2 linked regions of the Homo sapiens genome follow. The protein of the gene in region 2 interacts with the protein of the main gene of each other region in a biochemical or structural test. Each region holds a gene or a part of one and is shown on either strand. Other genes may lie near its edges.

Region 1 (5,577 bases), on a different chromosome or scaffold from region 2:
TAGAGTTAGCTGGACTTTAGTCCACTATCATTAATACAGTAGTGAATTATAAACCTTAAAATCCACAGCTTCTAGAAAAAATACAATTGATTTCTCCTTTTCATTTTGAGAATTTTACTGCTCGACATACCAAGGTAGGGCTGGCAAATATGAGCCCCTGTCATAGGCCTGCCCTACAGAGCGGAGATGTATTATAGCAAAGATGGTTGCAGACTGGTGACAGGACCAAGATGCTCTTCCCCACTAGCCCCTGACCCCCCTCAGAAATCCACCTATGCGGTACCCCCAACAGGTACTACCAACTGAGCAGTCACCACGGCCGGAGAAAACGGGCACCTTCCCTGCTCTGCGAGGAGACAGAAAGCTGAGCTCTGCAACATGACAGAGGCATCAACTCAGGATGGCATGTGTTCTTGAACTTTTCATTTTGTGACTCATGTTGTCACCCTCCATAGAGCCAACCATAAATGTTTTCAAAACGATTCATTACAAACTCAATATTCTTTAAAAACGTTGATGCTGTGACAGTGCAAACAGCATTGATTTTATTGCTCGACTTCGGCATGGGCACATACATAGTTAATTTTTAAAAACCATTTATACAGATGTTACTGATAAAGCTCATGTAACAAATGAATGAAAATACAAAGAATATCAAAGCTAAAACACTCTGTAATAAATACAAATACAATGAAAATGATAAAACTTTGTTTTTAAAGTCAGTCTGAGAGAAGAATATTACATAAAGTGAACTAATTACATCTAGAAATAAAACAACTCAGCATTTGGAACAATCATCCTAACATGTTAAATACCACAAATGGCACCCGTTGACTGTACGCTTAGAAAACAAGCAGAAGGAGCCACTCTCCCAAACTAAGGATGGTTGGAACAGCCTCTAACTCCCAACAATCCAATCAGTCCAATGCACTGGAAATTCAAAGCCCAGATTTAGTGTTGTAAAGTAAAGCGAATTACATTGTATTTGAAAGAAGAGAATCTTGTGCTCCGGACTGTAAATACATGAAAGAAAAAAAGGCTTGGTAAAAAACCCATTCGGGGCAACAAACTATGTGCAAAACAAAATGTACACTATACACTATACACTATGCACTATTTAAAAACTACACCAAGATACAAGGCCCTCTGAGGCAAGACTTACCTCTCTGTACTGCCTATGAGCTCTACAAAGGAATCTCTGTTCATAACTAAGCATTCATGATGGAAAGGCAAGAGTATGAAAACAGATATCACATATCTGAAATAACAATACAGCTAGAGGGAAGACAAGAAAAAACCAGTTAAGAGGGACATGGAAATAAATATTCACATTAAACATGAGGTGCAAGTCCATGGTTCAATAATACATTGGGGGTTTTTGCTTAGCACCTATTTGGAAGTAATCGGGTAATGTAACTTTGAAATGGAAATCTAAATCATGTTTTTATATATGTTGGTGATAACATAGACTGTTATGGAGAGTAATTTCTTTTTTTTTTTTTTTTGGGCGGGGACGGAGTCTCACTCTTGTCGCCCAGGCTGGAGTGCAGTGGTGCGATCTCGGCTCACTGCAATCTCTGCCTCCCAGATTCAAGCAATTCTCCTGCCTCAGCCTCCCAAGTAGTTGGATTACAGGAGTGCGCCACCATGCCCGGCTAAATTTTGTATTTTTAGTAGAGACAGGGTTTCACCACGTTGGCCAGGCTGGTCTCGAACTCCTGACCTCAGGTGATCCGCCCACCTCGGCCTCCCAAAGTGCTGGGATTACAGGTGTGAGCCACCATGCCCAGCCAATTTCTTTCTTTTAAAGCTCTATTAAGTCATTAGTATAAAGTTAAAAAGGCACTCAAAAAGCAATGGTATTTGCCTGCTTTATATTGTATATTAAAATAAGTGATAGTAGCATTTCATTATTACTGTATCCCTGTCAGTTATGATTTCTGTATTCATTATGTACTTTTTTACTGAAAGATTTTAAAAGTAGGCACAATTATAAACTGCACTAGTGCTTTAATATAAAAGAGAGATGGGTCTGCAACCAGTAAAGTACTATCATGACAGCTGAACATTACTGATTATCAAATAGCATAGAAACCACTTCCATACATTTCAAGATGCTCTTCAGTACTCAGAATGCAATGTAAAAAAAACAAATTGTTTGAGAGGAAAAAGGTAGGCATAAGCATATTACCACTGCACAGTTACAACTATGACTAGCTTGCTTGTGGCAGTTGAATTTGGCCAAATGAAATACATTAAAATACTTAAAAACTACACAAGTAGTTCTCAACTTTTTTAAAGCAGCAAAATCTCCACTTTTTTTATCCCATCCATTCCTCCCCGCCCCACTGCACCCCATGAAAGCTTACTTGAAATTCCAATATACATAAGAAAAATGGGCTGTTCTGGGTAAAGGGGGTGGGGATATGGAGCCTAAGGCCCCTGCTCAAATACCAACTAGGCCTTCCCCCTCGCTCCCTCTCATTGCCCCTCTTCTCTTAAACCATTACTCCTGAGGCACCCCTGAGGAACCCTTTGGCTCCAAGAACACAGACTGAAACCCACTCCATCACATGAAACAGAACACAGAGGACCTATTTACTTGATAACTTTAAATTTTGCAGCTTAATTATCATGAAAATTTGCTTATTTCACATCAATGTAAAAAAAAACTGATAGTACATATTTTTGATGGTTGAATTTAAAAATCCAACTGTGATTTCAGATTTTTTCAATCCCTCACCCCAGAGTTTTCGTTGCTTCTGGATCATTCAACATGCACGCACCTTGAAAGCTAAATCTGGACGTTTCAAAATCAGATGCAGATCTTCAACACCAAGGGAAGCGGGATTCCCTTACTTCCAAAATGAACTCTTCAAAGTAATTTACGCCATAGAGTTAGAATCACTGTTCATACTACCGCCCCTCAACCCCACTTCATTCTGTTAGGTAAAAGCAGGATTTTCTAAGCTTATTAATAATCTTTAGAGCAAAATTCTTCCTTTTTCATAACTGTAGCTGATTAAAATTATGAGCAGTTAACGCTTTAGGATGGTTTTGTTAATGGAAACTTACACTGTAGTTAAAATACAATATAAATTAGGTGCACTTGTCAGAGACTTTGGTTTATAGGAATAGTCCATATATTAAAGATAAGCTGACCCAGCAAAATAACGAAAATCCCATCCCATCCACATGCTCTGAGAAGCTATAAAAATGCAGTATTTTAAGATTAAAAGTAAATCCAAAATACCTAATCATATTGACTCAAGATAAAAACATTAGGTTTTTTTTTTTTTAAAAGAGTCTCTTAAAAACAGGGAGCCCCTGAACACATCTTATTGTCACAAATAAATGACTAAGTTTAGACTAAATGGTTGCATTAGGAATTTGACAACCAAAATTATATCGCTGTATTCCAGGAAATCCGTTCTTGAAAAATGTAAAAAAGACCCACTTAGACTAGGTTGAAACATATAATGCAAAATATAATGCTCTGCTATAGAAAAACACAAACATGTAAATGGCTTAATTTCTTAAAGATGATTCTTTTAGCCAATTGTTTACAAAGGTAGAATAATTCAAAATAATTTTATTTTTTTTTACAAAGAGCAAGTACAGGAGCTGTTCAAGATCATGTATTCAATCAAAATGAAATGTGACTTGTACCGACTGCTGAAGTTGTCTTGATGTTTGAGAGACTTGAAATCTGTGAAGAAATTTGAATAGATTACCTTTTATAAAAATAGTAGTAGTCTTTAAGTGTAGAATACTGCCTAACTCTGGAAATGTAGGAAAAGTCAGCATTCTTTAGGTTCAAGATATTAAGTTTAAATAGCAGCTGAATGTGGCCTCATGGCAAAGCATAAAGACCTTTTTTTTCCTTGAAAAGGAATTTCAAAATTGTCCTTTCCCCTCACAGTGTCCTAAAATGTAAAAAAAAAAAAAAAAAGGGGGGGGGGGGGAGTGTTTTCCTGTATTTCAGCATATTCTTTGAAACTCTGCTGAAAGGAGGCTGTCAGTCAGGGTTGTATAAATAGAGTCCTGGGTAAATCCTTGAAGCTTGTCATTCCACAGCAAATCCACATGTTTCTTCAATGGCTGTTAGCAGCTTTTCATATAGCTTTTCATAGCTTTCATAGGGTGGAATGTCTATTCGATTGAAGCTGTGAATAAGCAAATCAAATTTTATACAGTTCATTCAAAATAAGTAAACTGGCCTAGCAAGTGTATACCAGTATAGCCACATCACTCTGTGTCACACAGAAAACTAAAAGGTATTTCTCTAAAACAGAGATGACCACTTTTGGGTTTTCCTACCAATTTCCGAATAATCTTAACTTTTAAATCACTTAAGTTGCTTATCATTCCCTTTAAAGGCCCATTTAACACTAGTAAGTACAATAAATAAAAAGTCAAATCTGTTTGGAACTAACACTTATGTACATGGAATGGGGAATACAGCTACAAAAATACCTTACCAAGTGTGGGCTTTCGGCAGGTTGTTAGTGCAGGCATCAATCTGGTGTATGGTAAAGAGTCTCGGGCCTGCAGCACCTGCAAATGAAGGAAATGTGGATGAAATCACTGCAGGTGCGTGCATTAGTCTCCAAAATCTTAAGAATAAAACTGGTAAGTTAACCACAGGATCTGGGGATAGGGGAATGCTAATGAATCCACACATACTACCAAAGGGCAGCAGGAAAAGCATCTGGGTTTTAAGAGCCAGAATTAACCTTGGATAAGGCTTAGATTCCGTAATAGGTTCACATTTCCATTTGAGAAAAAACTCAAGATTGAAATCCCTTTCTCAATTTCTATCTTTTATAGAAAGTCAATATCCCAAAAGCATGAGAAGAAAAGTAATCAGGCAAATCCAAGGTAAAATACATAGGCACACATTCAAAAAGATGACGACCTGATGCAAATTTAGATTTCATGACTCAAACTGGGCTGACAGCAAAAGAGCCGTCTATAGAATCCATTTCAGTTCGCACAGGCACCCCATATAAATACATGTAGCAGAAATACAACTTCACTTTATGCATCTGGGAAGTGTGAGGATGAGGAGCTCTCCTTACAGAGAAGGGCAGCACAGCTGAAAGCACGCTCTCCCCCCAGGGATTTCAGCGCATGCGCTGTGGGCAGCACTGTCGAATTATGTACCAGTGTCGCTTTGTGTGTCCTTATTCATCACCAGCAGCTTTGAAAATGAAGTGCTTAAGAGGTAAAGGAAGCAACTGCCACCCAGTGAAGCACCACAATCATTAGCAATATTACCAGCTCCTCCCAAAATTAACCAGCTTATTCCACAGAAAACCATTCTTAAAAAAGGAATATGGTTGTAAACAAATGGTCTGATGCCATGCAGTAATTAAAATGCTCTGACCGAACAGATGGTTTCCATGACCCATGCTGCTTCTGTCTAATAAGAGAAAGAACGAAAAGTAGAGGGGAGAGGCATCCCAGGCAGGTAAACGTTTCACCAGGTCAAGATGTGAACATGGAAGTGAACGACTTCCCTACAGGAATGTGCAACAGAATTAAAAGTAAGGTGACCAGAAAACAAAGGCAGAG
Region 2 (4,772 bases):
TCTGTCACCGGTGTCACCCTAGGCTGCTTTTGCCCTGACTTTAGACAGCTCACTGGTTTTAAGTCACATTTCATCAACCCTTAGCCATAATAATCAGGATCCTCTGGTTAAGTGGAATGTCTAACCAAAACAAAACAAAAACTGATTTCTTTCATACTCTTTTAAATGTTCATTCTGCAGACATACTGTAGATTATATTTGTAAAAAAAAATCAATTTTTGGTGGTTACCCCCACTTCCCCCAAAAGAATCACAGAGAAAGGAAAGAGGAATAGGTAAAGTTTTAAACTTCGTCTCAGGTAAATGGGAAACGAGCTTGATTTTTCAGGGTCTTAGATAAGACACTTGTATATACTGAACAGGTGCTGCTTTTGGCTTGTATCACCAATGAGGCAGCAAAGTTAGAACTCGAAACTAGGGTGGGGGGTGGTGGCTGTATAATTAGGTCACAAAGAAATGTGGTAAGGACTTTGCATGAATAAAGTAGGTGCTTTATAAGGATTCATTAAGAGCTGAATTTATTTGACTTCAGTTTACAGTGCTGCCTCTCTCCTAGATTTGAAACGAATGCAATAAAATGTACAGATATTATATAGTGTTAAAAGGTCTCTTTCATGCTAGGCTAGCCACGAGTCTTGTCAAATTCATTAGTTTAATTTTTACCATTTAAAACAACAGAGCTGACTTTACAAAAGTAAAAGCTGCTTAGTAGCAACAGAGCTAGTCTTCCCGTCAACTGCTTGCTGTTTACAGGCCACAACCTGGCCACTGTAAACATGACACATCCATCAGGTACATATATTTTTAAGTGAACATACACATTTGGTCTAGTAAACATCAATAAGTCTAAACACCTGTTAACAAGCACACTTCATTTTAGGACAAGAGGTTTTTTGTTTTTTTTTTTTTTTTTTTTTTACATATACAAAATCCCACAAATTTAATGTGCGTCAATATCCATGCAGTAAATAAATGTTTTTACAAATAGAGTTCTTTTTAAATGATAAAAATATTACACTGGACCCAAAATTCCATACAAACATTAATACATGATTTCTCATCCATTTTGACTAAATATAGGATTACTGAAAATGTGCTGTAGAAAGGCCACTCTCCTGTACAGTTGTGCAAAGTCTGCAAAACGATAGTGATTCAATGGTGGTTTCAAAAGCAAAGAAAAAGATCCCCGCTGTGGAGTTTTTACTTTCTCCTCTACAGCAAAAATATTCACTGGCATATATCTGAACTCTTAAAGATGAAAGTACATTCACTGAGCTGTACAGGCAACAGTATAAAGCTGATTAGAAGTAGATTTTAGGATATAGAATAGTAAAGGAGGTTCCCTTTCTCCTCCTGAAAAAAACAGCAAATTGTGACTTGTACATTATGCAGCCAGACACTAAAAAGCAGCACAGTCATTTTCATGCTGTGATCACTTTCAAAAACAAGACGCTTATAAATGGAAATATATGAAGAGGACTTTTCCTTAGACTTCATCCACTCTATAGAACAATTCATGAAGCCAGGAAAAAAACCTCTAAATTGTTTCTCTCATAATTCAATGTGACATCTCTTTGAATGACCATCACCTGCTTGCTCCTTAGAAGGGAAGTACATTTTTATTTTTCAGTGTTGTTTTTTATAACACACATCAGCCTGAAACTAAACATATTGTACTTCCCTACCTGAAGTATAATTACCTAAGTTTAATTAGTGGACTAGGGGAAAATTGGAAACTAAGTGGAAAGTTGATTCATTTCAGTTTATACCTTGTTGTCTTTTAAGAGTTGGAGTTTAAAAACATGAGTTTGGGCTGAAATTTATATATATATATAGCTGTTAGCTGCCTTTCTGGGTGTGTTAAGTCAGTTTTTAAAAATCCCCTCTCAAATTCTTCTGTACACAATCAGCATCTCATCACTACAAAAATAAAGGAAGATTTAAACCAAGAAAATAAAGCAGCTCTATCTTCAATTTTGGTCTTAGTTACAAAAACATCTTACAAAGCTTTGCCCTGATACACCAAGTGTTCTCATAGATTTGGAATAATATTTCCATTAACTTAGCTTTCACAAGTTAATAGACTATTAAGACGAATATTAGATACCTGAACTTTTCTTATGTCGATGCTCTTCTATTTTGCTTAGCTCTTGTATGCGCATCTACATTTCACAAAAATAAAACTACAGCATTAAACTTTGTGCAATGTTTAAGAAAATTCTTAGAACATTTTAATAAATATAAAAAAGGTTTAAATTCTTTCCCACCCACAAGGATGTCTGCACCTGAAAAAATGTGATTTACTTTTGAAGTCTTGTTTATATAAAATTAACTTAAAGGGAGAAAAGATGACCATAGATAGAAAACTGCCTTTTGTGGTTTTACTACTTGAAGACCACCTGTATTTAGAATTGTTTGCAAAAGTTAATTTTAAGTCATTAAAGACAGTTGATTTTGCACATGGTAAACATAAGCTGAGCACTGTTGCATATAAAATATACAAATGCTCATTAAAGATAGTGGTATTGTGACCATATATGGTTTGTTTCATATAGTTTGGTAACATTAAAGTATAGCTTGTCAAGTGTTCCACACATTGATATAAAAACTACCTTATATACTTGTTCAGAGTACCAGCAGGTACTAGATGGTCTGAAGGCAGAATACATTTAGACATGCGTTTCAATGTATGAATGAGTGTGTGCTAGAGAGGAAGTGATTACATCTACTTCAGAAGAAATACTCAGTGGGTCATTTGAGGTGGTATTTTGACAGATATCCAAGAAAAGGTCGAGGTACATCTGCTTCCATTGTTGGAATTCTTTAGATGTCAAGTCTGGATTGTCTAGGACTTTATCGATAATGGCTACTTCCCCTTCTCTGGCCTGAAAAGAAAAAGGATTCAACAATTAAGACAGGGACAAAGTTTTATTCAAGTTTAAAATAAAAAGTTAATAGGCAAAACATTTAAGAAGCCCATAGGAGATGGCTTTGGATACTCACACCCACCCAGCTCTTTAGACTCACGTCCTAGTGTACTTTTTTCTACACCCGAGGAACGCCTCCTTTTGCCCACTGTGTGGTTTGCTTTTTCTCTTTGCCTGTCCTTTTGCCCATCTCTGCTATGGAAACCTTTTTCGTTCTTTAAGATCCAGTTCAAAAGCCTCTCATTTCTTCAAGCTGTGCTTAAACACTCAGAAAAGTTTTCTCCCTCATTTATGCCCCTTTACTACTCCATCAGTGCCACTGAGTACATTTGTCATATTCTATTTCTTGAGTTACTTTTGCATGTGTTCTATTTCTCCTGCTTTATGGTAAGCTTCTCATACTTGAATGAGACTGAGCATGGCCCCCCTGTTACCACAAATACATAATTCTTGCTGTGTGAATGTTATGGCTCCCTTTCTGTAGCACTGGGGGCCTGTAATGGAGAATGGCTCTCCCTTCCATGTTGGAAGCTGGGTCTCAGCTGAAGACTGAGCTTCATTTTGGTATAACTCACCAAGTTAAAACTATCACCTGGGGAAGATGAGAATTTCCCAGGTGGAAGGTGGGATGGAGAAGTAGGGGTTAAGAAAGTCTGAGCAGCTCAGTCCTGACCCAAGTAAAGCTTAGGGAAGTGTAGAAAATGTTCTGCAGGAAGTAAGGCATACACCTCTGGGCCAGCCAGAGTTGGGAGGCAAAGAAAACAGTAAGGTGGTTAAGAAGTTGGTCTGGCCTCACAGACCAGAATATGGAAGAGGGCTGGGACTGAGGATGTTGTGAGTTGCCTGTGGTGGGATCTGAGATCTGTGCTTGGTGAGGGGGACTGTTAAAATTCCAGGAAATAGACACATCCAGGGTTGCTTGGCCAGCTATGCTTCCCTAATGAAGGAATTCATTCCCTATTAATTTTCCATGCCAAAAACCATAGGGTTCTGTAGTTCATTTGTACCAATGAGGGACATTTTTTACAGTGACTTTTCGTTATCTTTCTTGGTCCCAGAGAATCGAGTGGAGCATTCATGTACCTGGTGATTCATCAATACTTAGTGAACTGAACATTGGCAGTAGCCATATATTTTGTCACTGGAAGAAAATACCCTGGGGGACTCTACAGAGCATAAAAGACAGGGAAAAGGGGCTGTGAGATAGAAGGAGAGAAACAGGTCTTTAAGATCCATGAATCTAACCTGCTTCAAAATGCCTGCCTGCCTTCTAAACCAGGCAGTTTAGAACTGAATGGGGGAAGTGGAGAGGCTCTATAAGGTGGGAGGGTGATGATATCTTTGGAGTAGGATTAGTCACTGCAACTATTCTTACGACTATTAACAGCACTCTCTAAAAATTCTGCTCTTCCCAAAAGTCCATTAAATTGTCCCCTGGATTTGCAGTAGTATTTGCATGACTACCAATTAAAAGCTAATGGAGTCTGAAAACTTTGCTGCTTGCTATCTGAAATTTTTTCAGGTCATTTTCTAGTTTGTCTGTCTCTTTGGTACTCACCTATATTTCAAAATTACAAAACCTCAGCAGCATGCTATGGATCTGAAATATTTCCCAAAGGAGCCCTCTGACCTTCTGTTTCCTGAAATTACTACAGCACATACTCTGTATGATAGTTCTTTTTTTTTTTAATTATACTTTAAGTCTGGGATACATGTGTAGAATGTGCACGTTTGTTACATATGTATACACGTGCCATGGTGGTTTGCTGCACCCATCAACCCATCATCTACATTAGGTAGTTCTCCTAATGCTATCCCTCCCCTAGCCCCCCACCCCCCGACAGGC

Evidence for each region. Proteins that work in one complex are often made in the same cells at the same time.
Region 1: the proteins of CNKSR2 (region 2) and SMURF2 form a complex in vitro, tested with the Homo sapiens proteins (one study listed by BioGRID).

The regions. Positions count from the first base shown.
Region 1 is NC_000017.11:64,541,782-64,547,358, forward strand, and holds the end of SMURF2 (E3 ubiquitin-protein ligase SMURF2), read right to left. Parts: intron 4,558-5,577; coding exon 4,482-4,557; intron 4,167-4,481; coding exon 4,067-4,166; 3' UTR 501-4,066; downstream 1-500. UniProt on the Homo sapiens protein: E3 ubiquitin-protein ligase which accepts ubiquitin from an E2 ubiquitin-conjugating enzyme in the form of a thioester and then directly transfers the ubiquitin to targeted substrates.
Region 2 is NC_000023.11:21,650,418-21,655,189, reverse strand, and holds the end of CNKSR2 (connector enhancer of kinase suppressor of ras 2), read right to left. Parts: intron 2,885-4,772; coding exon 2,669-2,884; 3' UTR 501-2,668; downstream 1-500.